Linked DNA regions of Homo sapiens. The protein of the gene in region 1 interacts with the protein of each later gene in a pairwise test. Each region holds a gene or a part of one and is shown in the gene's direction. Other genes may lie near its edges. The genes, in order: SLC7A14, BNIP2, UBIAD1, MFF and C1GALT1.

What was found.
Region 2: the proteins of SLC7A14 (region 1) and BNIP2 interact in binary tests that used the Homo sapiens proteins (3 or more experiments, as listed by UniProt).
Region 3: the proteins of SLC7A14 (region 1) and UBIAD1 interact in binary tests that used the Homo sapiens proteins (3 or more experiments, as listed by UniProt).
Region 4: the proteins of SLC7A14 (region 1) and MFF interact in binary tests that used the Homo sapiens proteins (3 or more experiments, as listed by UniProt).
Region 5: the proteins of SLC7A14 (region 1) and C1GALT1 interact in a two-hybrid assay, tested with the Homo sapiens proteins (one large-scale study listed by BioGRID).

Annotation. Positions count from the first base shown.
Region 1 is NC_000003.12:170,467,559-170,473,895, reverse strand, and holds part of SLC7A14 (solute carrier family 7 member 14), read left to right. Parts: intron 1-6,337. UniProt on the Homo sapiens protein: Imports 4-aminobutanoate (GABA) into lysosomes. May act as a GABA sensor that regulates mTORC2-dependent INS signaling and gluconeogenesis. The transport mechanism and substrate selectivity remain to be elucidated.
Region 2 is NC_000015.10:59,670,578-59,676,914, reverse strand, and holds part of BNIP2 (BCL2/adenovirus E1B 19 kDa protein-interacting protein 2), read left to right. Parts: intron 1-4,175; coding exon 4,176-4,278; intron 4,279-5,600; coding exon 5,601-5,732; intron 5,733-6,337.
Region 3 is NC_000001.11:11,284,765-11,290,470, forward strand, and holds the end of UBIAD1 (ubiA prenyltransferase domain-containing protein 1), read left to right. Parts: intron 1-879; coding exon 880-1,367; 3' UTR 1,368-3,670; downstream 3,671-5,706. UniProt on the Homo sapiens protein: Prenyltransferase that mediates the formation of menaquinone-4 (MK-4) and coenzyme Q10. MK-4 is a vitamin K2 isoform present at high concentrations in the brain, kidney and pancreas, and is required for endothelial cell development.
Region 4 is NC_000002.12:227,333,442-227,339,778, forward strand, and holds part of MFF (mitochondrial fission factor), read left to right. Parts: intron 1-6,337. UniProt on the Homo sapiens protein: Plays a role in mitochondrial and peroxisomal fission. Promotes the recruitment and association of the fission mediator dynamin-related protein 1 (DNM1L) to the mitochondrial surface.
Region 5 is NC_000007.14:7,184,253-7,190,589, forward strand, and holds part of C1GALT1 (glycoprotein-N-acetylgalactosamine 3-beta-galactosyltransferase 1), read left to right. Parts: intron 1-544; exon of another isoform or gene 545-606; intron 607-1,131; exon of another isoform or gene 1,132-1,225; intron 1,226-6,337. UniProt on the Homo sapiens protein: Glycosyltransferase that generates the core 1 O-glycan Gal-beta1-3GalNAc-alpha1-Ser/Thr (T antigen), which is a precursor for many extended O-glycans in glycoproteins.

The DNA of each region.
Region 1 (6,337 bases):
ATAAAATAAGCATCCCCAACCCCGTTTTGCAGATGAGAAACTGAGACATAAAGTAGCATGACTTCCCATTAGATCAGCTGCAGGGTCATGGAGAGAATCTCCGCCCAACTTCATCCTAAGCCTGCTCTTCCTGGCCATACCATATTAAACAAGCCTTGTTGTTATTATAGTCAACAGAGTCGTGGTGGTATTTTAAAAAATAATCAGCAATAGTGGGAGTTGGTGGGGTTGAGGTGGGGGTGGGAAGGATACCTTCTCATTACCACCCAGTCTCCCTTTCTGCTTCGGCAAATGTCTGTTTTGGAAAGTTGATCCCAGAGTAGTCAAAATAAAAGCCCTCTAGGCATAACAAAGTGCCTCAGCTATCTGCAGTGGGCAGAGCTTCCTGCTGGAAAGTGCACCCCAGCAAGAGGCAGCTCCACCCAGCCTGAGGTCAGGTGGCCCACCTCTCTCGGTTCTAAGTATGGAGCTTCATGGAGAGGACAGGGAGTTCCCAGGAACTCTGGAGATAGGGGACCTGGTCTGCAACCTAAGTGTGTGCCCTCAGAGTTGGAAATATGCTGTTATTGTTTGCATTACTCAGTCTCTTCAGAGTTGAGTTTTTGTTCTAGGATTTCTCCTGTATGATCAAGACCTCCCTTTCCCACCTCTCTTTCTTGTAGGTTTGGGGTCATTTGCTTAATTTTCACAGGATGGATAAACACAGGGGGGTGAGCAGGTATGTCACCTGCTGATGCCAAGGTACCCTAGTATATGAACGCAAGCTTAGCTTTTGTAAACCTTCCCTGGAGGCACCTGGGTGGGACAGGAACAGCCCTCAGGTTAGAGTTAAGAGATATGAGTCCCAATGCTATTTCAATTACTGATTTATCACACAGTTCTTAACTTCCCTGGGATGATGGATGAGAAAGTGCTTTTTTTAATATATAAAGTGCATTACAACCACAAAGTATTTAATATCATAAAGAAAGCCCATTCAATTGCTAAAGGCATGATTCTTGATCTTGTCTAGCCTGAACTTCTCATAGACACATTTTCCACTGGGGAACTTCTGTCTAGAAAAGAAGCCAAAGCCTCCCTTTGAATATTTCCCGTCACTGCAAACAGACTTTCTTTTTTTTTTTTTTTGAGACGGAGTCTTCACTCTGTCACCCAGGCTGGAGTGCAGTGGCACAATCTCAGCTCAATGCAAGCTCTGCCTCCCAGGTTCACGCCATTCTCCTGCCTCAGCCTCCGGAGTAGCTGGGACTACAGGTGCCCACCGCCATGCCCGGCTAATTTTTTTGTATTTTTTAGTAGAGACGGGGTTTCACCGTGTTAGCGAGGATGGTCTCGATCTCCTGACCTCGTGATCCACCCACCTCCGCCTCCCAAAGTGCTGGGATTACAGGCGTGAGCCACCGTGCCCGGCCTTTAAACAGACTTTCATAAGACTAACCACCATTACCTTTGACCAGGACAGGCATGCAGCCCACGTGCCCCAGTCCAACCATGTCTGTGTTAAAATATTGAAACTTTTTTTTTTTTGAGATGGAGTCTCACTCTGTCGCCCAGGCTGGAGTGCAATGGCGTGATCTCAGCTCACTGCAACCTCCACCTCCTGGGTTCAAGCAGTTCTCCTGCCTCAGCCTCCCATGTAGCTGGATTACCAGTGCCCGCCACCGTGCCCAGCTAATTATTTTTTTTTTTTTAGTAGACGGGGTTTCACCATGTTGGCCAGGCTGGACTCGAACTCCTGACCTCAGGTGATCCACCTGTCTCGGCCTCCCAAAGTGCTGGGATTACAGGCATGAGCCACCGTGCCCAGCCAGAATATTGAAACACTTCTGTGTTTACTGCTAACTAGTCACTTTCCTGCACACACCACGCACCCCCACCATGACCCATCAACTCAAAAAAAATAATTCCAGCCCCACAGAGGAGCCTCCAGGACACTGCTGCAGCACAAAGGCTGACACCCTCTGATTTTTGCCATCACACCTGCCTTTAGTTTCTTACTGACATAAGTTATGTAACTACAAAGCAATGGCTCTAAGTTATCTGCTTTTAAGGTACAGCAGAATTAAATATCCAAATAGAATAAATAGTATTATTTGTGAATCAGCCATCTTATTCTTGAGGCTTGGTTTCAAATGACTTCTGGCTTATAGCAAAATCAAATCCACCCTCAAAAGATATTAGATTGCCCTCCGCAAGAGTTTACAAAAGTATATGATGCCGTTCCCAGTGACCATCTTGATTAGCGGTGCCCAAAAACTACTTCAAGCAATGATGGCATCATAGGAATACGTGTGTAGCCTCATAAGGTGAAGAGTTTTCCACACACATGTAATAATTTAGATAAATTTTAATACTGCTGGATATCAGATAATATTAAGAAATTATTATTAATTTTTAGTTGTGATGATACTGCTTTTTTTAGAGATGCATACTCAAATATTTACAAATTAAACCTATGATAGAAGGGATTTGTTTCAAAACAATCTGTAGAGAAGGGGTCAGGGGAGGGAGCATGAAGGGAGCTGGTGATTCATGATCCTATTCACTCCACTTTTGTATATGTTCTTCCAAATAAAACGTTAAGCCAAATTGTTTTCCATCCCTGGTAGGCGGGAGATGTAAGAGGGATAGAAGCGCCCTGGATTAGGGCATGGGGAGACCTGGAAGGATTCACTGTCCACCTGCTCACTGTGTGGCTGTGGACCTTCCCTTATGTTTTCTGTGCCCACTGTCCTGTTGTCCTGTCTGTGAAGTGTGCAATGCACATAATCACTCACACACACACACACACACACACACACACACCCCTTCCCAGACAGGTTAAAGGGAGTCTAAACAAAACAAGATACTGTTTGTGTAACATTTTGAGCTCTTTGGGACAAAGGTGCAACATCAACCATCCATCATTATCCTAACCCAGCACACAGAAATGCTTTGTGAAGTTTAGTTTAGATGATTCAGGATTCCCAGAACCCCTACAGATTTTTCAGAAACTACCTCATGCTTCATTCTCTAAGCCAACTAAAAAAAGGAGCAGAAACAAAACACCCTGCTTCCACACAGGAGGCGTGGAGCAGCTCTGTTTACTCCTCCGACACAAAGCCCTTGTTTATGTGGGACAGATGGTAATACGTTTCTCTTCTCTTCTCTCTCTCTCCCTCCCTCCCTCCCTTCATCTGTTCCTCTCTGTTTCTTTGTCCCCCTCCATTTTTCTTTTCTCCAATCCTTCTCAGTTTCACACCACTTTTCCTGAATTGACTCAAGGGCCAGCAAGAAAGATAGACACACAGAATGCCAAGCCCTAGGGGAACGGCTTTGCATCTACTATTTACTCTACCAGGCTGCATGCACACGGTCGTTTCTTGTTTCACAGTACTCACATTTGAAATGCATTTTTGAAGACAGAGTGATACACCTTTGAAACTCCAGGGGGTTCAGGGCAAACATGAAAAGACCCATAAATATTTATGTGGCAAGTTTCCATGGATTGTCTTCACAAAGTAAAAAGTAACCACAGTCAATATGTGAGAGCGCGCAGACACAGACACACACACATACACACACACACACACACACACACACACACATGTTCCTTCCAGGCCTGGCCACTCCCAAAGAACACATGTAAACCTCTTATCACATGTTTACTGCAGTGGGCATAGTCTGTAAACCAGCCTGGGGGAGGGGAGAGGAGGTGTGAAGGACTAGACACGCAAGAGACTTCTCTCCCTCCATGTATAAAGCTGGTTCCTCTCCTTCTCAGACCCAGGCAAGTCACTTATTCTTTCCCAGCCTCTGTTTCTTCTTCTGTAAAATGAAGGTTTTAGAATGCATAGGTGATCTATAGCATCTTTTCCAGCTCTAAATATCTATGACTCAAGGTTTTTAGAGAATTCCCATAATATGAATCTATCTGACACCCAAAATACCTTGTGGGGGCAGGGACAGGTCTGTTGGAATCGACAAACCAGTGATGAGTGATGTCAAACCAGTGACTGAACAATGACCTTTGTGGTGGCAGAGGAGAGACGTTTGGGGCAAAGGGAAAAGAAAAAGATGGTATTAAGTTCAGTAGGGAAATGAGTCGTCTATAAGCAAAGTCAGAGAAGGGCATCAGAAAGGAAAGAATTGGCATAATAGGTACCAAGCAGGAGTAGGAGGCAATATTTGGCATCTGCCTGGGTGTCTAGAAGAAAAGATGGCAAAAAAGCAAAGCAGTGCAAAAGGAGGTGTGCACAGGTCCTGCCTGGTCGCCTGAAATCCATTCTCAGATGCCAAACATGCTTCAGACAGAGGCATTCTCCAAGAACCAGCACACTGGCACTCTTAGAAGAGGCCTTAATGTGATGCCCTGTTCTACACAAGGATAATAACCATCCCCCATAGCCACCCCCCACCTACAGAAAAGAAAGAGTAAATACCCTGCTTTTAAAAGATGAATCATTATTTGAGCACTAATAGCTACATCTGCAAATAATTAACTCTAGGATTTATTACCAATTAGGACTATAAATCTGTGCTTACTTTGGCTCCTGGAAAGTTGATTTCACTGGGGAGTGTGGGAGGGAGGGGGGACAAAGTCATTTGAGACAAGGAGGGAGAAATCCAAGCTTAAAAAGGCACACTTCAAATTCAAAAGAGAGCAAGATTTCTCAAGCACCACAGCAGCAAAGCAGGCTTGACTTGCGGTTCTAAGCAAACCAGCCCAGCAGAAGCCTGCAGGGTTAGCAAAGTCAAAGAGACTGGTGCTACTCAGAGGAGGATGTTAGGGCCCGGGAAGGAGGTTGCATACTGTATGGACCCCAGTGCCTAGGCCATAGTGTGGGCTGAGTGGGCAGTGGAACACTGTGCCCATCAGGCACAGTTCATTATCTCAGGGACACTCTGACCATTGGAATCACCTGTGGAGTTTTAAAAACATACCTATGCTTGGGTTATACTGCAGACTAATTAAATCAGAATCTCCAGGATGGGGCTAGGGTATCAGAGTGGTTCAAAAAACACCCCCAGGTGACTTTCAAGTGCAGCCAGGGTTGAGAACCACCACTTACCTCATTTCATCCTCAAGCACTCCCATGTTAAGAGGGTTGCTATAGCTCTCATCGTTTTACAGAGAATGCTGAGGAACAGAGAGGCTAAGTAATGGGACCAGGGTTACACAGCTAACAGTGATGAAGGCAGGATTTGAACACAGAGCCCACAGTCTTACTTATCATGTTCTATGGACTCCAAGGTTATGGTTCCCAGACTTCCAGGCCCTGAACCTTCACAGTCTATTCAAGATAGAAAATGGGGACTCAGGCCAGGACTGATGGCTCATGCCTGTAATCCCAACACATTGGGAAGTGGAAGCAGGCGGATCACTTGAGTCCAAGAATTTGAGACCAGCCTGGGCAACATGGTGAAACTCCATCTCTCAAAAATACAAAAATTAGCTGGGCGTGGTGGCACATGCCTGTGGTCCCAACTACTCGAGAGGCCAAGGCAGGAGAATCGCTTGAGCCCATGAGGCAGAGACTGCAGTGAGCCGAGATCATGCCACTGCACTCCAGCCTGGACAACAGAGTGAGACCCTGTCTCAAAAAAAAAAAGAAAAGAAAAAGAAAATGGGTACTCATAAATGACTTTTATGCATGTTTTTTAAATCATAGAAATGAAACATTAGCATATATGAATGCTACATATTAACGAGGGGGGCAAGTTTCTTTCCTTTGATTGGGATGACATCAACACAGAGGTTGCACTGGACATTTCACGCTTATCAGGAGTTCTCACCCATTCATTCAACAAACATTAAGTGCCAATTTTCTGCAGAGTCTACGACCCTGTGCAGATAATCACACAACAGATGTTCTAAGGGACATAATAGTAGCATGCACTAGACACTCTGAGAGCACACAGAAGAAAGCAGGCAGCTTGGAGTGGCCATGATATATCACGCCTTTAGTGAGTGTAAAATGTCAAGGTAAATCACAGGATAATATATGCATGCTGCTAAGAGGTGAAACATGAGATAGAGTCCCTAACTGGAGGCAGAGAATAATCAAATCTTATAAGAACGTTGGGAATAAACTGTTGCTGATCCATAAATAGTTCACCCAGGGTAGAAAATGCAAATTCCTGGCTGGCAGCTATATGAGTGTAATGAGCCCGACGTCAGCATGGGAGGTGGGGACTGAGGTAACCTAGAGACCCTGTATCCTGTCTAAAGAGGCAGCCAGTTCTCAACACCAGCCAAAAATCACCATGTAGAAATGTGGATGCAGTGTTGTCAGACCTTTTGACTTTTCTAGGAAAATCTGTAAATATGGGTTACTTAACGCAAGATCTCCCAATT
Region 2 (6,337 bases), on another chromosome or scaffold:
TAGGCTGCCAGCCACACCGTGCAGGTGACAGCGGTGAGCGAACGCAGCGAGAGCCCAGGGCAGCTGAGGCAGAATTCCCGGCAGGAAGGGAAGTAGTAGCGGCGCTGCAGGGCCAGGCGGCCACCGCAGATATCCGAAAAGCTCCGCTCATCCTCCATGACACCCCAACTCTGCCGCCCGCACCGCACCGCGCGGCACTCCACTGCGCTCGCCTGCCCTAGCCGTTTCATGCAATATCAGAATTCTAAATACTTTTAGAAACTCTGCCTAGAGATATTATGTAATTTTGAAAGAATAATAAGCATTTCTCATTCATTTTAGAAACATGACAGGTTTAAAGTAAAAGAATAAAAGTACCATTTAAAAATGATTATATGCATACAGTAAGTTGAAAAAGTACAAAAGAATTTGTAGTGAAAACTGTCAGGTTGGGCACGGTGGCTCAGGTTTGTAATCCCAGCAATTTGGGAGGCTGAGGCAGGAGGATTACTTGAGCCCAGGAGTTCAGGACCAGCTTGGGCAACATAGACCTCGTCTCCACAAAAAAATAAAAAAAATAAAAAAATAAATAAAATTAGCCAGGAGTGGTGGCATATGCCTGTAGTCCCAGCTACTTAGGAGGCTGGGGTGGGAGGAGAGAGAGCTTGAGCTTGGGAAGATGAGGCTTCAGTGGCCGTGATCATCCCACTGCACTCTAGTTTTTTGTTTTGTTTTGGTTTTTGACCCTGTCTCAAAATTAAAAAATTTTTTAAACTGTCTCTAGGCTACCCAAAACTGGGACTGAACAGTCTCCCTAATTTATAAACAGTGAAATGCTCTGATCTTAAGTGTGCAGTTCAATGAGTTTTGACAAATGCCTATATAACCATATATACCCATATATATAAAACCCATACCCCTAAAAATGTAGAACATTTTCATTGTCCCAGAAGAATTATTTAGTACCCCTGTGCAATGAATACTCAGCTTCGGTAGCCACTGTCATATCTACCCCCTGATTAGTTTTGCCTCTTCTAGAATTTCATATATAGTAACTAAAATCATCCTATGCACTCTTTTGTTTACTTTTCAGCATGAAGTTTTTGAGATTCATCCATGTTGTTGCACGTATCCACAGTACATTCCTTCTTATTGCTGAGTAGTTTTCCATTGCTTGGATAAACCATAATTTGCTTATCCGTTTTTTTTTATGTGCATGTGAGTTGTTTCCAGCTTGGGCTGTTATAAACAAAACTGCTTTGAACATTCTTGTAGAAGTCATTTATGGATATAAGTAAAACTTGGACTCTTTTTGTTTTGTTTTGTTTTGAGACAGAGTCTTGCTCTGTCACCCAGGCTGGAGTGCAGTGGCGTGACAGCTCACTGCAACCTCTGCCTCCTCGGTTCAAGGGATTCTCCTGCCTCAGTCTCCCGAGTAGCTGGGATTACAGGTGCACGCCACCATGCCCAGCTAATTTTTTGTATTTTTAGTAGAGAAAGGGTTTCACCATGTTAGCCAGGATGGTCTCGATCACCTGACCTCGTGATTTGCTCACCCCAGCCTCCTGAAGTGCTGGGATTACAGGCATGAGCCACCGTGCCCGGCCCTAAAACTTGGACTTTTTAACCTTAACTCTTAATTTGCCTTAAAACCGTGAACAAATTTTTTTTTCTTTTTTTTTTTTTTGAGATGGAGTCTCATTCTGTCACCCAGGCTGGAGTGCAGTGGCGCAATCTCGGCTCACTGCAACCTCTGCCTCCCAGGCTCAAGCGATACGCCAGCCTCAGCCTCCCAAGTAGGTGGGACTACAGGTGCACGCCACCACGCCTGGCTAATTTTTGTATTTTTAGTAGAGACGGGGTTTCACCATATTGGCCAGGCTGGTCTCGAACTCCTGACCTTGTGATCTGCCCGCCTCAGCCTCCCAAAGTGCTGGGATTACAGGCATGAGCCACAGTGCCCAGGCCAAATTATTTTTTAATAGAGAACTAGTTCACTCCACACTTCTATACAGCACCCACTTTCCATACTTATGGGATATACAAAAATACAAGGCTTAAGTCCCTGCCCTTAAGAAATAGGAAAAGCCATAAAAGTTTAAGTTATAAATCCTTTCAATCTAACAGTACCATATATAGAAGTTAACCTAGGCACATTGTAAATAGTGCTAGAATGTTAGTGGTAAGTCAGAACACAACTCACTGTAGAGCATGTCATACTACCTTAAATCCTCCTAACACAGGACGGAGGGCATATGGGTCAAGCAGATTGATTTTTTTTCAGGGTCATTTCCACTTGATTTACTCTCTGCCAGATGCATTCCCCTGCTTATTTCTACAGTCTTCATTCATCTGAAAGCAAATCACATGAATATTTGTAGTTGCATTCTTCTGCCTAATTTAATCGTACTCAGATGAAGAAAATGGCGTAATCTGCATCAGGAAGTCCACAGACATACATTATTCAGCTAGTTCACAGGAATCAAATTATAAGACCTGATTTATGGCTTAAATCTCTTATCTTTCAGAAATAGCACTTTTTTTATAGGGGAAAATAAGACCACCTTATTTTATTGCATTACCACACTTAATATATTTTGTGACTGAGTGATTAAGAAAGGTAGTGAAGATTCTGATGTTCTTGAAATGTTCAAATCTTTTCATGTGCAAATTTGTAAGCAATAGAAATGAAGGTTAAAGCAGAAGTATTTGCTACTAAATATTGGCTTAATATCTAAAGACTGCTGTTGAAACATACATATTTTAGCGCTGTTTTCCATTACTGAAAATTATGTCAGAGATGTAATTTAGTTTGTTTTTTTGTTTTTGTTTTTGTTTTTTTTTTGAGACCCAAGTCTTGCTCTGTTGCCCAGGCTGGAGTGCAGTGGTGCAGTCTCGACTCACTGCAACCTCCGCCTCCCAGGTTTGAATGATTGTCCTGCCTCAGCCTCCTGAGTAGCTGGGACTACAGGTGCACACCACCACACCCAGCTAATTGTTTATATCTTTAGTAGAGATGGGGTTTCGCCATGTTGGCCAGGCTGGTCTCAAAATTCCTGGCCTTAAGTGATCTGCCCACCTCAGCCTCCCGAAGTGCTGGAATTACAAGCATGAGCCACCTCGCCCGGCCTAATTTAGTTTTAATGTCCTAATTTCTACAAAATGCTAGCATTTTTAAATATAAACTTACCTTTTAAAAATCACCCACTTATGGCTCTGGCGATGTGGCTCATGCCCAGTGCTTTGGGAGGCCAAAGGAGGAGGATTGCTTAAGGCCAGGAGTTCACGACCAGTCTGAGCAACACAGTGAAACCCTATCTCTACAAAAAAAATTTTATAAAGGTTAACCAGGCATGTTTGTGTGCGCTGTATCCCCAGCTCCTCTGGAGGCTATGAGGTGGGAAGATCCCTTGAGCCCAGAAGTTCAAGGCTGCATGAGCTGTGATTGCGCCACTGCACTCCATCCTGGGCAATGGAGCAAGATGCTATCCTCTAAAAAAAAATTTAAAAAAGCACCCACTTTGCCGGGCACGGTGGCTCACGCCTGTAATCCCAGCACTGTGGGAGGCTGAGGCAGGCAGATCACGAGGTCAGGAGTTCGAGACCAGTCTGGCCAACTTAGTGAAACCCCATCTCTACTAAAAATACACAAAAAATTAGCCGGGCACGGTGGTGTGCGCTTATAATCCCAGCTACTCGGGAGGCAGGAGAATCGCGTGAAGCCAGGAGGCGGAGGTTGCAGTGAGCCGAGATTGTGCCACTGCCCTCCAGCCTGGACGACAGAACGAGACTCCATCTAAAAAAAAAAAAAAAGCACCCACTTTAACCATAAGCATCATAGAAATAAATAAAAATACATTGCAGTTATTGTATTGTGTCTGTATTGTATTGGGTTATATCACTATATTTGTCTACCTGCTAAAATAGGGCTGGCTTTTTAAATATGCGAATTTAAGTGGTCTTGGGTTTTTTTGTTTTTTCTGTCCACCGTCCTCTTTAAATTTTACTGTTCTCTTTTTGGGAAGAAGACATTAAAATTCTATATAAGACCATATAAGATTTACAAAACATACATTTAATACAGAAATCTGTGAAAAGTAAACTCTTATTTATAATTTACTAATCATACAGATGTCTTCTAAAAATGCCTAAGAGTAAAATCGTGCTGGTGATACTGTCTTTGGTTTCTTTTTTAGGATATTATGGGGATGGATTAAATGCCATTGTTGTGTTTGCTGTCTGTTTCATGCCTGAAAGTAGTCAGCCTAACTATAGATACCTGATGGACAATCTTTTTAAGTAAGTATATATTAAACAAAAACATTTGGACAGAATTGTGAGCTAATTAGATCTACACCTTAAGAAACTTAACCTTTTCAAAAATTATAAATATTCCAGTTCTTTGGGAGACTGAAGTGGGCAGATCACTTGAGTCCAGGAGTTGGAGACCAGCCTAGGCGATATGACAAAGCTCTTTCTCTACAAAATCAAAAAATTAGCCAGGCATGGTAGTATGGGCCTGTAGCCCCACCTACTCAGGAGGCTGAGGTGGAAGTATCACCTGAGCCCATGAGGTCAAAGCTGCAGTGAACTGTGATTTTGCCACTGCACTCTACCCTGGGTGACAGAGTAAGACCCTGTCTCAGAAAAATAAATATCCCAGATCTTTTCACGTGCAAGTTTGTGAACAACAGAATGAAGGTTAAAGTAAAAGTATTTGTTACTAGATACAGGACTAGATGAGTCCTTATTCTTTGATATTATGGAACGATAGTTTTCCAATTCAAGAGAAAAATTGTCATTTTAAAACTGGGAAATATATCTCAGATTATTTGTTCCAACTTTGTTTCGTTTTGTTTTGAGATGGAGTTTCACTCTGTCACCCAGGCTGGAGTGCAGTGGTACAACTACGGCTCCCTGCAGCCTTGACCTCACGGGCTCAAGCCATCCTCCTACCTCAGCCTCCCTAGTGGCTGGGACTGCAGGCACATGTCACCACATCCTGCTGACTTCTTAATTTTTGGTAGAGACAGAGTCTCACTATGTTGCCAGGGTTGGTCTCAAACTCCTGGGCTCAAGTAAGCCACCATGCCTTACCTGTCCCAACTGTTTTATGTTAACATTTGCAGGCACATTAAGTGTAAAGAAGTGATTTTTGTCTCAAAATCATGTGGCTAAATTACATTTACCCCTAGAAGGCCAATATAATTGAGCCAAATCAGTTCTTTTTCCACAAGGTCATTCTATTTCTCAGGTTAGTGCAGTTTTTAAAAACCGTATTGTGGAAAGTTTCAGACATACACAGGGGTAAAGAGAAGTATATCAAATCTTCATGTATCAGTCACTTCAACAATTACCAATTTATACTTTGTTCCCACTTCTAACCCCCAGTTTACAAGTTTGAAGCAAATCCCAGGAGCAAATCATTTCACCTAGAAACATTTCAAAATATATCTCTAAAAAATAAGATAATCGTAATACTAGCTAATGCGGTTTGAGCATTTTCATTGTTGCTCTCATTGTAGGAGAGAGGAAGGAATTGTATAATGGTACAATTTAGAGAACCTAGTTCAGTTATGCACAGTGATTTTTAAGGCTTAAACTTAATTTGTTTTTTACAGATATGTTATTGGCACTTTGGAGCTATTAGTAGCAGAAAACTACATGATAGTTTATTTAAATGGTGCAACAACTCGAAGAAAAATGCCCAGTCTGGGATGGCTCAGGAAATGTTATCAGCAAATTGATAGAAGGTAATACAAATACAAGTTGAAAGCTAGTCTGAAAAAATTTTATAATGGCTTTAGGAAATCAAACTTTGTTTTTCGTTGCTATTTTTTTTTTTTAACTTTTTTTTTTTTTGAGACGGAGTTTCACTCTTGTTGCCCAGGCTGGAGTGCAATGGCACAATCTCGGTTCACCGCAACCTCCACCTCCCAGGTTCAAGCGATTCTCCTGCCTCAGCCTCCCAAGTAGCTGGGATTACAGGCATGCGCCACCACGCCCAGCTAATGTTGTATTTTTTGTAGAGACGGGGTTTCTCCATGTTGGTCAGGCTGGTCTCGAACTCCTGACCTTAGGTGATCCACCCGCCTCGGCCTCCTGAAGTGCTGGGATTACAGGCGTGAGCCACCGCGCCCAGCCTTCTGTTGCTATTTTAAAACACCATTTATTTTTTAAATTTTATTTATTTATTTCATGGCAGGTTTCTGTTTTCTAAAGATAGCATTTTAGAATATTGTGAGGGAAATCAATTTTGATTTTTCTATAAAGAATAACCTTAATTCTTCAAACTTACAAAGTAGCTTTATATTTCTCCTTATTTAATTGAAGACTTTCTCCTTATTTATAAGATGCA
Region 3 (5,706 bases), on another chromosome or scaffold:
GCCAGATTCCTATTTTTAAAGGTTCACTCTAACGCCTTTTTAGAGATTAGATTAGGGATGGAGAGGGGGAGGGGTTATGAGAGGGGAAGCTGATAGACCAGTTTGGAGGATGTTGCAGTATCCCAGGCATAAGATGACCATGAGGTAGATTTGGTAAGGGGGATGGAGGGTGGCCCCGGGGATGGAGAGAATGGATAGTTTTGAAGGAAGTGGGTTAGACAGGCTTTGAAGTAGATGAGCAGGACAGAAACAGGAGGTAGGGGTGGTTTAGTTTCAATCTCATAGGAGACAGAGGAGGAAAGCAGCATTATAACTCTCCTGTCCTCGCTGTTTTGCTTATCGCAGGGGTGCAGGTTTAAGGACCCCGAAATTTCACTGAAATTCACTGGCCGTTTTTAAAACCAGAAGATGCCTTGAGATTGTAGGGGAAGGAGGTGGAAAAGTAGAAGGCCAGAGTGGCTATTCTGTGAGGGATTGATCTCACGGGGTCTTGCAGGGGTTGGTGAAGGGTGAAAGATAGCAAAGAACTGGATTCTAAGACCTTTAGATCCTTCCTGGGCTCTCCCATTGAACTAAGAGTATAGTGGGTGCCTAGTGTGCTATGTTGCAGAGCTCTGTTGGGGGACAGTAGGAAGGGAAACTTGGGTATGAACCTGGGAAGAGGGACTTGAGGCCTCACTGGGCATTCTCTCTGCACCTGTGGCATTGGAGAAGAAATCAGAATTTGCTCTGTGGGGTTAAGGGATGAAATGAGTGCCCACCTGCACAGTCTAAGGATTTACCATTTTCAGCCGGAAGTGGCCTGCCTCTTCACTGGTGAACAGTCCCTAAATTTCCAGCCTTGGTCTCACACCAACTCTCTGGATTTTCTGGCCGCAGGAATTGGATTCAAGTACGTGGCTCTGGGAGACCTCATCATCCTCATCACTTTTGGCCCGCTGGCTGTGATGTTCGCCTACGCCATCCAGGTGGGGTCCCTGGCCATCTTCCCACTGGTCTATGCCATCCCCCTCGCCCTCAGCACCGAGGCCATTCTCCATTCCAACAACACCAGGGACATGGAGTCCGACCGGGAGGCTGGTATCGTCACGCTGGCCATCCTCATCGGCCCCACGTTCTCCTACATTCTCTACAACACACTGCTCTTCCTGCCCTACCTGGTCTTCAGCATCCTGGCCACACACTGCACCATCAGCCTGGCACTCCCCCTGCTTACCATTCCCATGGCCTTCTCCCTTGAGAGACAGTTTCGAAGCCAGGCCTTCAACAAACTGCCCCAGAGGACTGCCAAGCTCAACCTCCTGCTGGGACTTTTCTATGTCTTTGGCATCATTCTGGCACCAGCAGGCAGTCTGCCCAAAATTTAAGGGGACAAGTAGCTCCCCCCACGACATGTCTCCCTTTCTTAGAATATATTAAAGTCAGAGTCTCTGAGGAAGGAATGTGATTTGGCAGTCAGGGTACTAAGCATGGGTGGGAACTCCTGCCTTATAAAAATTGTTTTTGTGTTCTTAAAGATAATATGTTGTTTTTCTGTTTTTTGTTTTTTCCATTTTATGGGGAATTTAAAAACCATTCTTGTATCAGAAGGTGAATTAGGCGCATGGTCTTTGTTTTATTAATAATTTCCACTAGAGGGTGTTCTCAGGTCACTTTGCAGTGAAGTGGACTTAGTTCCTCCTTGTTCTGTACAAAATGTCTCCAGACTTTGTAAAGGAGCTGCCCAGTTTGGCCTCCTGTCCCGAAAAGACCCTAATAACTAGGCAGAGTGTTGTCCTGCTTTCTTCGTCTCGTAGGATGTGCTATGATTGGTGCCAGGCCTCACTAACACAGGGGCTACCTGTCTCTTATTCTCAGCACCTGTGTCCTGAGATACGCTGCCTGAGACAGAGAGAGTCCCTCATTAACAGCCTGTGTGGCTGTCAGCTTTTTGCCTAAATTGTGATTCAGATGCTTTTGTTCTCTCTCCTTTCACTTATTGCCACAGTTGAGGAAAAGTGTCAGATTACCCTGCAGCAAGACAAGCCAAGGACTGGGAGGGAAAAAAAAACCACTCTGGAGGCAACTGAGAAAATCACTGCTTTTGGATAGGAATCAGTAGGGTGGCTGTTTTCCCTTTGTTGAATCTACTAGAGTGACAGGAAGGACTCCCAGCCCTTTCAGTAACTATCAGGAGCCCTGAAACGGTAGAGGCACTGCCATCCTTGTGGGATACTCAAAGCCCACAGGGCTTTTCCCTCCCTATTGCATCTTCTGATGCTCCCCACACCTACCCTCCACCTCTCCACCTCTGTGGTGTTCCCATTTGTGTGTTTCCCATCTGTGGAGCCAGACTGAGCAATAGCTTAGCAGCGAGTCAGGGACAGCTGCCACTTTCCACAGAGCCACAGGATGGGCAGAGCAGGGACCCAGGGAATGAATAGCCAGTGGACAAACAGTCTTGAGCTCTGTTCAGCCAGAGTGATGGGCCCTGCCAGTTAAGGGGCTGTGTCTTCATCCTTGAAGACAGATGTGCAATATTGACCCTGCCTCTCCCCAGGGCTTTGTGGAAAGATAGTTGAGGGCTTTAGTGAGATCACACTCAGAGTGGGGCAATTCCAGCATTTATCCTGGCTGCGTTTCATTGCATTGTCTGTGAAGTATAATTTCTGGGCCAGAATTGCTCAGTTGCATTTGATCCAGGACTATAGATTGGAAATGGGTCATCATTGTTTTCTGTTGTGATTATAGCCATTCTAGTAGGCGTTTAAGGTCATGGCCTGCAGAAAATGATGTAAGAACTAGTTCTTAATCTTTCAGATCAAGCTAATGATGATATGGAACCTTGAGTTCGAATTGATTGGTTTACTTGGAAAAAAACATGTTTGAAAATTGCAAAAGTTCCGCCGGGCGCGGTGGCTCATGCCTGTAATCCCAGCACTTTGGGAGGCCGAGACGGGCGGATCACGAGGTCAGGAGATCGAGACCATCTTGGCTAACACGGTGAAACCCCGTTTCTACTAAAAATACAAAAAATTAGCCAGGCGTGTTGGCGGGCGCCTGTAGTCCCAGCTACCTGGGCGGCTGAGGCAGGAGCATGGCGTGAACCCAGGAGGCGGAGCTTGCAGTGAGCTGAGATCATGCCACTGCACTCCAACCTGGGGGACACAGCAAGACTCCGTCTCAAAAAAAAAAAAAGAAAAAGAAAATTGCAAAAGTTCCTCTAAAGTTAAATCAAAGGTGGTTTGTCTAGCAGAGAGCCAGAATCTTCTAATAGTGGGCAGAGCCCAGAGACAAGGGGAAGAAAGATGACCTTCTCCCCAGTCCTTCCCAGCACCATTTTTGTTTCACACCAGGCTTGTGGCATTTTGGTGCTCACAGGGGTTTTGCCTTCTGACCTCTCCTTGGAGTAGGCCATTCTCATGCAGGGCTCACCCTGAGGCAGGAGGACCAAGGGCTCCCTGCGTCCACGGACCACGTATGCCTTGGTGGTCACTCCCATCGGGGCTATCAGTTCTGCACTGTGCCCTGGTGCGGATTTTAATGCATATTTTTATATATAAATGTTCCCAAAGGCCAAATTTGTTGCCAGGTTTTATACGCAGGTCACCATAATTTGTATTATGTTCCCTGAGTCAATGAAGGTTTTCTTTAGACTTCTTAATTAAAAAGAGAAGAAAGAAAATGTTCACCAATGGTCTGGCTTCTGGTTTTTGCTTTCCTCATACTTACTGTCTGATTGTGAACTCTGATTTGTAAATCTCAGGGAGACCAAGGCAGTGACATTGGACATTCAGGCTGTGCAGAGGGGCACCTGGTCTTTGGTGATGAGTTTGGGTAGGGTTTGACCAGATTCGACAGGCCTTTAGAAAAGGCAGCAGGGACTGGGCATGGTGGCTCACGCTTGTAATCACAGTAATTTGTGAGGCCAAGGTGAGAGGATTGCTTGAGCCCAGGAGTTTGAGACCAGCCTAAGTAACGTAGTAAGACCCCATCTCTACAAAAAAAATTTTAAAAAGTTAGCTGGGCGTGGTGGTGCATGCCTGTAGTCTCAGCTACTCAGGAGGCTGAGGTGGAAGGATCGCTTGAACCTAGCAGGTCGAGGCTGCAGTGAGGTATGATCACGCCACTGCACATCCGCCTGGGCGACAGAGCGAGACACTGTCTCAAAAAAAAAAACAAAACAAAAAACGTTGAGGGCTGCATGTAGCTACAGTGGATTTGCCAAGAGCCAGTCAGCAGTCAGGCCAGATTAACCTCGTTTCATTTTTCTTTTTCTTGATAGGGTCACTGTGCTGCTAGATGGAGAACATGAGGTAGATTGAGTACATGTGGGTTTCAGCTAGGCATTGGACAATATATCCTATGAACAAGGCAGAGAGACGTGGGATGGATAACAGTGGAGTTAGATAAATTCCTGAGAGACTGAGCAGGCGGTGGGAGAGAGCTAACTGATCAGCATGTCAGTGGCAGCTGGGAAGGAGCCCTTAGTAGCAGTTGGAGCCCTGTCCTCTGCCCTTTGCTCCGCTGGATTCAACACCTGTTATTAATGACGCGGATGAGGCAGCCAAAATGAAAGGTTTCATGAACCTTGGAGGAAGAGCTTACAAAATGACAATTAGGAGCCTCATAAATCAAAAGGCTGCTTTGATGGGTCAAAAGAAAAATGTAGTGTGAATAAATACAAAGCAATACACTAAGGTCCCAAAATCAACAGCATAAACATCAGAGAGGGGGAGAGCCATGATGTGACAGCCATGGAGATAGGGGGGTATGAGTTTTCTCAGTGACTGGAATCTGACATCACTTGTCTTTATTTATTTATTTATTATTTTTTTTGAGACTATGTCTCAGTGTCGCCTGGGCTAGAATGGAGTGGCGTGATCTCGGCTCACTGCAACCTCTGCCTCCCGGATTCAAAGCCATTCTCCTGCCTCAGCCTCCCCAGTAGCTGGGATTACAGGCACGTACCACCACACCTAGCTAATTTTTGTATATATATGTTTTATATATATCTCACTCTGTCGCACGGGCTAGAGTGCAGTGGCGCAATCTCGGCTCACTGCAACCTCTGCTTCCTGGGTTCAAGCGATTCTCCCACCTTAGCCTCCTGAGTAGCTGGCATTACAGGCACCCGCCACTATGCCCAGCTAATTTTTTGTATTTTTAGTAGAGAAGGGGTTTCACCATGTTGGCCAGGCTGGTCTCAAACTCCTGACCTTGAGATTCACCCGCCTTGGCCTCCCAAAGTGCTGGGATTACAGGTGTGAGCCACCGCACCTGGCATAATTTTTGTATTTTTAGTAGAGACGGGGTTTTACCATGTTGGCCAGGCTGGTCTCGAAATCCTGACCTCAGGCTATCTACCCATCTGGGCCTCCCAAAGTGCTGAGATTACAGGCGTGAGCCCCCGTGCCTGGCTGCCTTTATTTCTTGGAGTCAGATTTATTCTGCTCCCCAGGCAGGTGGCTGAAAATTCAATGCCAGCTACCTCTTGAGCACCCTCCCAAATGTCTGGGATCACCCAGAACTCCTGGCCTCTGTGGGGCCAGAGCCAGGGATTTTTGCTTACCATCTGTAAGGTCACCTCTCTGCTACTGGATGCTGGGGTTTGGCCCTGGAATCTGCCCTTGTCTTGGACACTGCTCCTCTAGAAGGGTTCATAAAGCCCCTTCCTGGTGACAAGTGCCAGTGGGGCACAGATCCTGCTACTCCAGTCACATTTCT
Region 4 (6,337 bases), on another chromosome or scaffold:
CCTTTACATGACAGAAAGGCACTAACATACTTGCAGAATTGTATTATTTAACAAACATTTTTTAACTTTTATCTCTGAGATACTATATGCAGTATAGGAATTAATGAGACATAGTTCCTGCATTCAAAAAGTTTGCTGTCTGTCTGGTTTCAGCAGGACAATGATATGAGTGAGGGAAAGACATCAACGCATGCAGAAGATACAAAATTCTTTAATAGCAGAAAATAATGAAAGTTACCAAGATGGTTACATAAAACAAAAGTATCCAGTGTGCTCCCAGTTTAAGGCCCAGCTTTCTAACTCCCCAAAGTTCCTTGGGAATTATACCTGTGAAAATAATTGTCTTACAGTGACGATTTTGCCAGGAAAGAAATGCTCCTTATTGTATTCTTCGGGTTTTTCTGTTGGTCTTTCTGCTTCTCCTAATTGAAAGCAACCCAAGCAATTCCCTGATTGATTATTTTAAGAGTGAGTGAAGAAAGTTTGCCGGGATTTCCCTCAGTAGACCCAGGCTTTAAGACTCTACGGGGTTCATTCCTGCATTAATTGTGATATTTAGTCAAATGTGATAGATGTTCAGAGTGTATAACACTGGGGTAAAAAAGTTTGTGTGAGAATTAGAACTAATTTTGAAGACCTACTTTGCCATTTACTAACCACATAACTTTGGGCAAGTTATTTAACAGTTCTAGGGCGTATCTCTGAAATAAAGATAAGAATAATGCCAAGTGCATGAGATTGTTATGAGAATTAAATGTAATCATGCATGTTCTAATTCGTGTTAAAAGCTCAATATATATAAATGTTATTGTTAGGAGAGACTTAAAATCCTGTGGCAGGAGCCAGATCCTGAAATGAAAGACGAGTTTCTGAGATTAATACCAGCTGCTTATTGAAAGCAAAGATGATGGTTTGGACTTCAAGTTTATACAAGCTTATAGAAGGGTCCAGTAGCCTTCAAGAAGCACTCAACTGCAGTGAGCAAGGGAGGAAGGGGTAAGGGAGCCAGGGTTCTAGTAGCTTCTAGAAATTGACTGAAATAGAGAAGCAGTAAGGGCCTGAGTACTGATAACATTGATGATTCATTCAGGTGTTAACTCAGAATCGATAAAGTGAGATCCCCAGAACATTTGCTCTGTATCATTCTGCAGTGGATGCTAGAATGAGGTAGAGCAATAGTGCTCTACCTCAGCACTGTTGGCATTTTGGACTGGAAAATTCCTTGTTGTGGTGAGAGCCACCTTTTTGCACTGTAGAATGTTTGCAACATTTGTGATCTCTATCTACAAGATGCCATTACCGTCTTCCAAGTCATGATATCCAAAAATGTCTGTAATAGCAAAAAGGTGGAAGCAAGTAAAATATCCATCAGCTGATGAATGGATAAGCAAAACATCATCTAGCCATATAGTAACTCTTATTCAGCCATAAAAAAATGAGGTACTGGCTGGGTGCGGTGGCTCATGCCTGCAATCCCAGCACTTTGGGAGGCTGAGGTGGGCAGATCACTTGAGGTCAGGAGTTCAAGACCAGCCTGGCCAACATGGTGAGACCCTGTCTCTACTGAAAATACAAAAATTAGCTGGGCATGGTGGTGTGGACGCCTGTAATCCCAGCTACTCTGGAGGGGGAGGCAGGAGAATCACTTGAACCCCGGGGTGGAGGTAGCAGTGAACCGAGATTGTGCCACTGTACTCCGGTCTGGGCAACAGAGCCAGACTCTGTCTCTCAAAAAAAAAAAAAAAAGGTACTGATACATGCCACAACATGGATGAACCTTGAAAACATGTAAAGTTTAAGAAGCCAGACAACAAAGGCCATATATTGCATTTTTCTACTTACATGAAATATCCAGAGTGGCCAAATGAATGAAGACAGGATACAGAGCAGTGGTTGTCAGGGGGTTAGAGGAGAGGGGACTTGAGAGTGACTGCTTAATCAGTATGGGGTTTCCTTTTGGGCTGATGAAAATATTCCGGAATTAGATAGTGGTAATGATTACACAACGTTGTGAGTGTACTAAATGCCGCTGAATTGTACACTTCAACATGGTTAAAATTGTGTATGTTATGTGTGTTTTAAAATAAAAAAGAAAATACCTCCAGACATTGCCAAATGTTCTCTACAGGGCAAGATCACCCCCTACTGAAAACCACTGACCTATCTCAAGAAAGGAGAAGGCTTATGAGGAAGCCTATAAAATTGTTGTCTGAAAGCCTGATTGATGCAAGGGATAAATTTGTAGAAAGCAGTTGTACTTGAGTTCTTAAACTGGCTTAAAGAATCCAGGTGAGCCCTTGAGGAGGGCTTAAAACATAACATAAATAATCCCTTAGCTCAAAGACAGTTTAAAAATGTGAGGCTTGGCTGGAAGAGAGGAAGTTGACAAACACTTTCAATATGCCTAATCTCCACCAATATTTGGAAATCAGCTCTAAGATAAGACCATTGCTTGGTGATTCTGTCTGCTGGGAACTAACAAAGCAACTGTTCAATAAACCATGTGATCTGGGCATGAAATACAAAATGCCCAAGTCATGACAGTTTTCAGTGTTCCTACAGTAGACTAGGCAGTGTGAATGAGGAGAAAGAAGCTGTAACACTGACATTACCAGCTCTTCTCAAAAAGGAATCCGAACTGGAGCCAGTGGGGAAGGATCTTCCAGAGAACAAGAAAGAAGAACTGTAAAGAAAGAGTTGGAAAATGCTGCCTGTAAGAAGATTTGACACAACCTTGAACAGTGTGACTAAGTCAAAGATGTGGACTCTGCCGTTAAATCCTATCAATCAAGCCGTGATATGCTTTGAAAAAATCAGCTACAATAAACCCTAAGAGCTTTGTGAGAAGGCCATTGAAGTTGGAAGAAAAAACAGACTGGTCTAAAGATAGAGAGTAAAAGCTTTTGCCCAAGTTGGCATCTCTTACTTCAAAGAGGAGAAATACGAGAATACTATTCATTTCTATAATAAATCTTTGGAAGAGCACTGAACCCCAGATATACACAAGAATCGTCAATAGTTAGGAATTAATCTGGAAAGAGCAAAATCAGTTGGCATATATAAAATCTGACCTGATTTTGGAGGAGAAGAGTAAAGGCATTGAGTGGTTTCAGAAATGGAACTATCTCCAAGCCATGCCAGCTTTATACAGAAGCCATCAAATGGCATCCTCCACAGGATGCCAAATTCTACAGCAGTTATATCCAAAGTGTACAGCCAGAGCTGGAGGAGTAGAAGAAATATCTAGCTAGATCCACCCTTAACACAGATTATACTTAGAAAGCAGCAGCCTTAGAATCTGAAGGATGACACAAAAGCCATGAATGTCTAGCAGAAGGCCCTAGACCTGTAATTCTACCGTAAAGAAGTAGCAGATGGTTATTGGTGCCCAGTTCAATTGATATGACAACGCTAAGGATGTGAAGCAAAAAACCATAGCTATATGACATATCCTAAAACAAATGCAGAAGGGCTCCCAGGGACTCAGTGAATATTTAAAAGGGTCCTGTGGAAGCTTAGAAAATCAAGAACTTCATGAATATGGGTCTGATCACACTTTGGTGATGGTTTCTTGAGCTCTTTTTCCTTCCTCATCACTTCTGGAAAGAGGAGCTGGGACTGCAATGAGCAGAATGGAGCAAAAGTCTGGAGAGAAGAGGAAAAGCTGAATTGTATATATGTTTACACATTCATGCATGGAAAATTCAGAGATGGACACTTGCGTTCTTTGTACAGCTACAGTTTTATGGCCCTCTTAGCACAAGCATGGTCTCGTCACTCCTGACAAATTGGGCTATGTGTCCTTCCCAAAACCCGCAGTCACTGGCTTAACTGTTCTCCCCATGATTCGTGATTTTAAATTTTGGACAATGCACATGTTGGGGAGGGAAGATATTTATCCCAACTGTTCAGTCTACATTGATAATTTGTACCTTTCCCCCTTCTGCATAAAAGTCCCACAGAAAATGGGGGTGAGTATAGAGGAAAAACACGAAGGCTCTGAGTAGATTCCTGAAGAAGAGGTGGGCTTTGAACAGATTGAGAGAATCAGCCATCAAAAAACCTAGAGGACATTTACTTGCCCAGGAATTTATGAACAATCAAATTTAACTTGGGGTGTAAGCATATTAAAGGAGAATTGTATGCAAGCATGCAAAGTGTCTAGTGCTACATGTTATATAACTATGTAGCACTAGACACTGTGACCCAACTTCCAGGAAGCTGCTTGAACTTAGGAAACTATTTCTCAGCCTCCGGGATGAATAAAACTAAGTGCATAACCACTGAAGGATGATTCTGAAAGACATTTTAAAATTCTGCATTGAGGCCAGGCACAGTGGCTCACATTTGTAATCCCAGCACTTTGGGAAGCCGAAGTGGGTGGATCTCTTGAGGTCAAGAGATCACCAAGCCTGGCCAACATGGTGAAACCCCATCTCTACCAAAAAATACAAAAATTAGCTGGTCATGGTGTGTACCTGTAATCTCAGCTACTCAGGAGGCTAAGGCATGAAAATCTCTTGAACCCGGGAGGCAGAGATTGCATAAGCCAAGATTGTGCCACTGTACTCCATCCTGGGCAACACAATGAGACCCTATCTGGAAAAAAAAAAAAATCTCAGATTGAAACAAAACAAACATCCAGGCCGGGCATGGTGGCTCACACCTGTAATCCCAGTACTTTGGGAGGCCAAGGTGGGTGGATTACTTGAGGTTAGGAGTTCAAGACCAGCCTGGCCAACATGGTGAAACCCTATCTCTACTAAAAATAACAAAAATTATCTGGGCGAGATGGCATGCACCTGTAATCCCAGCTACTCGGGAGGGTGAGGCATGAGAATTGCTTGAACCCAGGAGGTGTAGGTTGCAGTGAGCTGAAATAGCACCATTGCACTCCAGCCTGGGGGAACAGAGTGACACTCTGTCTCAAAAAAAAAAAAAAGAAAAGAAAAACATCCACCTGGGATTACAGGTGTGAGCCACCGTGCCCAACCAAAAACATCAATAAATATTGATTGATATTTTGAAAATCTTAATTTTCAAGTCCTTAATTCACACACTATTTGTTTTTTTACTATAAAGTTTAATTTTTTAAAAACCATAATGTCGGCCGGGCGCAGTGGCTCACGCCTGTAATCCCAGCACTTTGGGAGGCTGAGGCAGCCAAATCATGAGATTAGGAGTTCGAGACCAGCCTGGCCAACATGGTGAAACACCGTCTCCACTGAAAATACAAAAATGAGCAAGGTGTGGTGGCACACACCTGTAATCCCAGCTACTCAGGATGCCGAGGCAGGAGAATTGCTTGAACCCGGGAGGCAGAGTTTGCAGTGAGTCAAGCCGAGATTGTGCCACTGCATTGCAGCCTGGGCGACAGAACAAGACTCTGTCTCAAAAAAAAACAAAAAAAAAAACCATAATGTTGCCATGGCTATTTTAGTGGGGGGTTTTTTGTTTGTTTTGTTTTTTTTAGTATTTTTGTTGGGCTCAGTGGCTCACACCTGTAATCCCAACACTTTGGGAGGCCAAGGTGGGCAGAACACTTGAGCTCAGGAGTTCGAGACCAGCCTGGGGAACATGGCAAAACCCCCATCTCTACAAAATACAAAAATTAGCCAGGTGCGGTGGTGTGTGCCTATAGTCCCAGCTACTTCAGAGGCTAAAATGGAAGGATCACTTGAGCCCAGGAGGCTGAGGCTGCAACGAGCCATGAGCATGCCACTGCACTCCAGCCTGGATGACAGAGCAAGATCCTATCTCAAAAAAAAAAAAAAAGGTATTTTCAAATAAGCAGAAAAGTTAATGATTATCACTGTTCTAGTTATCCATTTCTGTGTAACAAATCATCTTAAACTTAGTGGCTTAAAACAAACAAGCCTATGTTTTGCTCAAGCATTCTGTGGGTTAGGTATTTGCAGTTGCCGTGAAGGGAAAAGCTTGTTTCTGTTCTTCAATGTCTGGGGCCTAAGCTAGGAAGTCTCAAAGGCAAAGGATAACTCAACAGCTGGATCTGCAGTTATCTGAAGGTTTGCTCACTCACATGTCACTTGGTACTAGCTGTTGTCTGGGACCTCCATTAGGGTTGTTGGCAGGTGCACTTACACATGGCCTCACTGTGTGGCTACTTGGCCTTCCTTGTGTCATGGTGCCATTCTTCCAAATATGAGCAACCTGGGGAAAGAAAGGCAGAAGCTGTACTGTTATGACCTAGCCTCAGAAGTCACTTTGCATCATTTCTATAGGAGTCACCAGCCCTCTGAATTTCAGGGGAAAGAAACAGATCCTGTCTCTTAATGAAGAAGGTCAAAGATACATTTCATAAGAAGAGCATGTGGGA
Region 5 (6,337 bases), on another chromosome or scaffold:
GGAAAGTATGACTCATTTAAAATTCTTCATAAAGAGAATAATTTTTCAGTATTAGTGGAGAGCTACTAAATGCCTCTCAAATTTGCCTGGAATGTGTATTTTTTTGTATCTTCCTACTTAGGATTAAGCATTTTAGAAATATTTTGTGTTTCCTATTTAAAGTTTTTCATAATTATGCTTTTTAAGACTAGACTACGTTGAGTAAATTCAATATCCAGTTATTCTTAAAATTGTATCACAAATTTATTTCAGGGTACACATAATGAGTTCTTGTTTACCTAATAGAAATATGAAAAAGTATGTCACTAGGCACATGCTACTATTTGTGTATTGATTTGTGCTAAAATTAAAATTGCATTATGCAGTTTAACATTATAAGCCATGGTAATTTAGAGTCTTTGTGTGGTAAAATCATTGATTGGAATTTTTGTGACAGTGCAGCTATAAATAAACCTTAAGTAGAAAATGGAAAGCTTGATGCTGAAATTAAATTCAGATAGGCTTAAAAGTTTAAGCTTCCCAATACAACCATCTTTTCTTTTAGAAGATTTCTTAAGATTTGATTAAAGACGCTGATGTACAAACTATAGCAAGGCTGAAAGAAAGGTATGACAAAAATCTTTTTACTTCAAATTCAGTGGGATTAAGTCATTCTTTTAAAAGAAGAAAGGTGGGGAGCGGGAAGGAGACTTGTTCCATAAAATGAGAAGTTAGCCTTTTATCTTAAAATCTGGTTAGAGAGGAACTCCAATGTGTACTTAAATTATTTTGCAGCTAATTCAAATGTCCAAGGGGAATATATATGCCAAAATCTGTAATATGTGAGAATAGGAAGAGGGAGAAAAAAAATATATAAAGAAACTGGTGTTTGTGATTTAGGGAAGCACATAAGAAGGTGGGGGAAACTGAAAGGAAAGTCTAAATAAATTATCTAGCACCTGTAGTATGTGCTGCCTTGCACATTGAAGGGGCGTGTTGGGGGCAACGAGAGGCAATATTAGGGAGATTCTGGAATGGGAAACCTGTATATTAAAGCACATTTAAACGGCTAGATGTTGGATAATAGGCAGAATTTGAAATTAAATACAGCTTGGCATAGTTATTTGCATTCTTGGTCATTGTATTTTCTAGGGCTGCGGTAACAAAATACGACAAACTGGGTGATTTAAAACAACAGATTTATTGTCTCAGTTCTGGAGGCAAGATGTCTGAAATCAAGATGTAGGTATGGCCATGCTCTCTCAAGGTTCGAGGGGAGAATCTGTTCCATGCCTCTTAGCTTGTTGTGTTACTGCCAATCCTTAGCATTTTTTGGCTTGCAGCTATGTCACTCCAGTCTGTGACTCTGTTATCACAACATAATCCCTGTGTGGCTCTGTCTTCAGATGGTGTGCTCCACTTCTTGCAAGGATACTAGTCGTATTGGATTAAGATCCACCCTAATCACCTCATCTTAACTTGATTACATCTGCAAAGACCCTATTTTGAAATAAGGTCACGTGCAGAGGTACTGGAATTAGGACTTCAACCTATCTTTTGTGGGGACACAGTTTAACCTGTAACAGTTGCACGGTTTATCTTTTACATCGTTCAGTAAATGTTTAGCATTATAGACTGAATCAGAGGCTATAGTGGAAACAGGATGGGACACTTACATTTATTTACATATATCAGTGATGTCTTAATCTGTTTTCTGTTGCCTCTAGCAGAATATCTGAAACTGGATAATCTATAAAGAAAAGAAATTTATTCCTTACAGTTAGGAAGGCTGAAAAGTCCTGGTTCAGGGGGCCACATCTGGTGAGGGCATTTGCTGGTAGGGACTCTGCAGAGTCCTGAGGATAGCACAGGGCACCACATGGTGAGGGGGCCGAGCATGCTAGCCCAGAACTCTTTCTTTCTTTCTTTCTTTCTTGTAAAGCTACCAGTTCCTTTCCCATGATAACCCATTCATGAGGGCTGAACCCTTAGTACCCAGTCACCATTTAAAGACTCCAGCTCTCAATACTGCCACAGTGGTGATTAAGGTTCAACATGAGTTTTGGAGGAGACAAACATTCAGACCACAGCAAGTGCTTACTATGTGCCAGGTCCTGGAGATAAAACAGTGGATAGGCAAAAATCTCTGTCCTCATGGAGCTTACATTCTGAAACACGGGTTCTAAAAATGTGGTCCCTGGATCTGCAGCATCATCATCACCTGGGAAGTTGTTAGAAATTGAAATTTTCAGGCTCCATCCCAGAACTCTTTATTTAACTAGCCTTCCAAATGATTCTGATGGAGACTCAGGTTTCAGAACCACTGATCAAGATGGAAAAGAGACAGTAAACAAGATGAATAAGTAAAATAATATTTGATATTAATAGGTGCTGTGGGTAAGCATAGGGTGGCCAGTGAAGACTCCTGAAAAGTAAAGACCTGAAGGAGTTGGAGAGTGAGCCATATGAGCACCTGGGTGCGTGTTCTTAGCAGAGAACAGTTAAGTGTGAAGACCCTGGCACGTTTGAGGAATGACAAGCAGTTAGTATTAGGTTCAATCTATGAAATTGCTGCTGTTTGTTCATTTTTGACCTACAAAAACACCAAATACTGGGGAGAAGAGATCAGAAAGAAAGGGGTGGAGTAGGATGCAGATTGTGGGTAGATCCTTGTAAGGTTTTGGCTCTCTAAGATTAGGAAGACGGGAGGGTTTTGAGCAAATGAGTGATGTGATCTGATTTCAGTTTTAAAAGGATCATTGTGGCTATTGGTAAAAATGGGCCAAAGAAGCAAAGGCTAAAGGAAGGGGAAAGTTGGTTAGAATGTTGTTGGAGTAGTTAAAAGACAGAGAGGTTGCTCAGACCAGGGTGATAGCAGTGGAGAAGTCAGAAGAGGTACAAGACTAAAAACGCACAGTAAATGGTTTGAAAAGTAAGTTTTTTTCATCCCACTCCAGTTACCCAGTTGTCCTCCTCAAAGGCAATTAGTGTTAAAAGTAGTCTTATCTCTATTCTTCCTGAGATTTTTTTTTTTTTGAGACGGAGTCTCACTCTGTCGCCCAGGCTGGAGTGCAGTGGCGCGATCTCAGCTCACTGCAAGCTCTGCCTCCTGGGTTCACGCCATTCTCCTGCCTCAGCCTCCCCAGTAGCTGGGACTACAGGCACCTGCCACCATGCCCAGCTAATTTCTTTTTTTTTTTGTATTTTTAGTAGAGACAGGGGAGATCTTTTATGTAAATGTGAGAAACAGTTTTAACAAATTAGTGGAGAGGTTGTTACCTGGAAACATTTAGCAATGTCTACAGACATTTTTGTTTGTCACAACTAGGGGGAATACTACTGGCATCTAGTGAGTAAAGGCCAGGGATGCTGGCTAAATATCCTACAGAGGACCGGACGGCTTCCACAACAGAGAGTTATCCAGCTCTTAATGTCAGTAGCGCCAAGGTTAAGAAACCTTAGTTTAATGGGATTTACAGAGGTTGGTGGGAAGCAAGTGTTGTAGTCAGAGAAGACAGTAGGAAGAGGAGCTGACCATATTGGGAACCTTTCAGTAACTGTAGACAGTTCAGGATTGCTGAAGCAGACATAAATTATAAGGCACAGAATAGCAAAAGACGAGGCTGGAAACCTGGACAGGCTCTAGGTCATAGCCTTTATTTATATATCATGTTAATAAAAAATGTTTAGTTTTTGTCTTGTAGGCAGTGGAGTTCCGTGAAAGGATTCATGGGGTGACATGGTCAGCTTTTCATTTTAGAGAGCTCATTCTGGTGACGGGGTATGAGTTAAAGAGGGATAGCACTTGAGTCAGAGAGGTTAGATATTGTAATAGCCTGTGGGGAGAGAGGAGAGTCTGAAATAGGATAAATACTAGAAATGGAGAGGAGACAATGGATTAGAATAATATTTAGGAAGTAATGTTGGCAAGACTTGGTAATTGGATTTGGGGTGAAGATAAGGGAAGCATTAAGAATATCTGTGTACTTTGTAGTTTAGATAATCCTGTGGCTCTGAGTGAAATAGGAACCCATTGGTGAATAATTTAGGTAATTACCAGTAATTAAGGTAAAATGAGCAGAGGAAAGTAATGAGTCACTTTGGAGGTGTTGAATTAGAGATGCCTATGGTCCAGGTGGAAGTATTTAGCAGGCATTTGTGTATGTGAATCTGAAACTTGGAGAAGTCTGAAAGGATCAAGAGATCATTTTGTTTGACAAGTGTGGAGAAATTAGTGGACTTTAATTTTTATCATATTATTTCACTCTGTAGATAAAAATTGCCTCCCTTTATTTAATTTTTATCAGAAAAGTAATGTGTGTACCCGATGCAAAATTAAAACATCAAAAGGTTATAAAATAAAAAAAAATTTGTCCTTCCTTGCTCATGCCACCCAGTGCTAGTTCCCAGAGATAGCTCTTGTTAAATATCATATGTATATATATCTTAACAGATTTTAAAATATATACAGAAACATTTAAAAAGCCAAGTGAAATCATACTAGAAAATATTTCGGTACATTGTCTTAAAAAATAAACCTTTTATCTTATACAGTTGTTAAAATGAATGACATTGTGTTATGGATAAAATAAGTGAAGGGGTAAATTAAAGTGCAGACTAACCGATAAGCATGATCTCTGATGTAAATTAAAAGCTGAACATACATATGTGATGATATAGGCATTACCCAACGATACGAAAGCAGTTACTTTTGGGGAGAGATAGTGGTAGAGATGGTAAAGAAAATTTACTCTTTTCTGTCTATGATTTTCTTTCATTTGTTTAGGTTTGTTCCTTTTGTTTTCTTTACATTTTCTGATGTTTAAAAAAATACCCAGTATACCTTATTAACAATAAAAAGTAACCTTTGTCAAAAGCACAAAGATTTTCCCTATCAGCACATGTAGATCATTGTTTTTAACAGCTACTACTATTCTATGCTATGGCTCTATCTTTTTTTTAAAAAACTGGTTCCTCATCAACAGACAGACGTCTTATGGTTATGGCTGTCGAGCATCTTGGCTGACTTCTATGATTATATCTGTAAAATAAGTTTCTGATCATGAAGTGATATATCAAGGCATAATTAGTTAAAAATTTAAAAAGATGTTGTGAAATGCCCTTCCAAAAGACAGTAAAAGTATGTATTATGAGAAAGAATACAGGACTACCAGTTTTCTTGTATCTGTGTCAATAACAGCTGTTAATAAACTTTAAAAGTTTTGCCAATATGTTAGGTTAAAAATAATATCTCTTCATTTGATTTACCTTTGTGAGTGAAATTTGAACATCGTTGACCATTTTTTACTGTGAATCTTTTATTTTCTTTATCTGTTTTTGTATTTGGTTAACTATCTTTTTTATTATTTATGATACTTTTTGGTTCTTTTTGCTGTACATTAAAAAAATATATTTCATAAAGAAATATGCCCTTTAACCAGCGACTTCATTGCCAGAAGTTTATCCAATGAATAAACTCATAGTGTTTTAATAGTCACAGCTTCTGAGTGTGGGAGAGATCTCAATTCGTAATATCAAAATGCAAAAATATATTTTCTTCCAGTTTTGTTTTAATTCCATTTTCTAAAATACTGAAATCTTAGAAACATTTGAAATTGTTACTAGAAAGTAAGGATCCAGCTGGTTTTGTTTTTTTTTCCCCAAAAGATTAATTAATTCAATACCATTTCTTCAATAAGCCACCTTTTTCTTGATTTGAAATGCTGTTTATTATGTATTAAATTTCCACATGAATTTTTGTTTTCCATAGAGTCTTTATTTCAACCTGATGAAGTCCCTTTATAAGATTCATCTGGTAGAGACCACCAGGGACACATCTGTAGGCTGACAAAGGTTAATTAGCTTGCTGCAGTGAAGGAGACTTGCACAGCAGAGGAAATGTCAGCATTTCTAAAGAAGGAACCAGGGTTATTATAGGATTTTGGAGAATGGTGGAGTTTGGATAAAGTTTAAACGCAACAATATTTGATAAGCTTAAAGCACGGCAAGACTGTGTGTCAAGGGTTAATAAACATCAGGCCTGGGCTGAGAAGCTGACTCAGGATTCTGATTCCCTGGAGACTACAAAATCGCGATACATGTGGAATGTTGTGTCTGGAAACCCCTTATCTGAAGCTCTGAGTTGCAAAGTGAGGTTGCTTCTGTTTCATAATGATCTACCATCAGTGCGAGAGTGGGATGTTCCATTCTCACTTTATAAAATTTCAAATAACATAGTTTCTGACAGTCTGATGTAGAGAACAGTTTCTCAGCACATTGTCTTTAGTATTAACAAATGCATTTTTTTAAACAGACTGAGAGTTTGTTCAGCATAAATACCAAATTGTTTTCATTACCT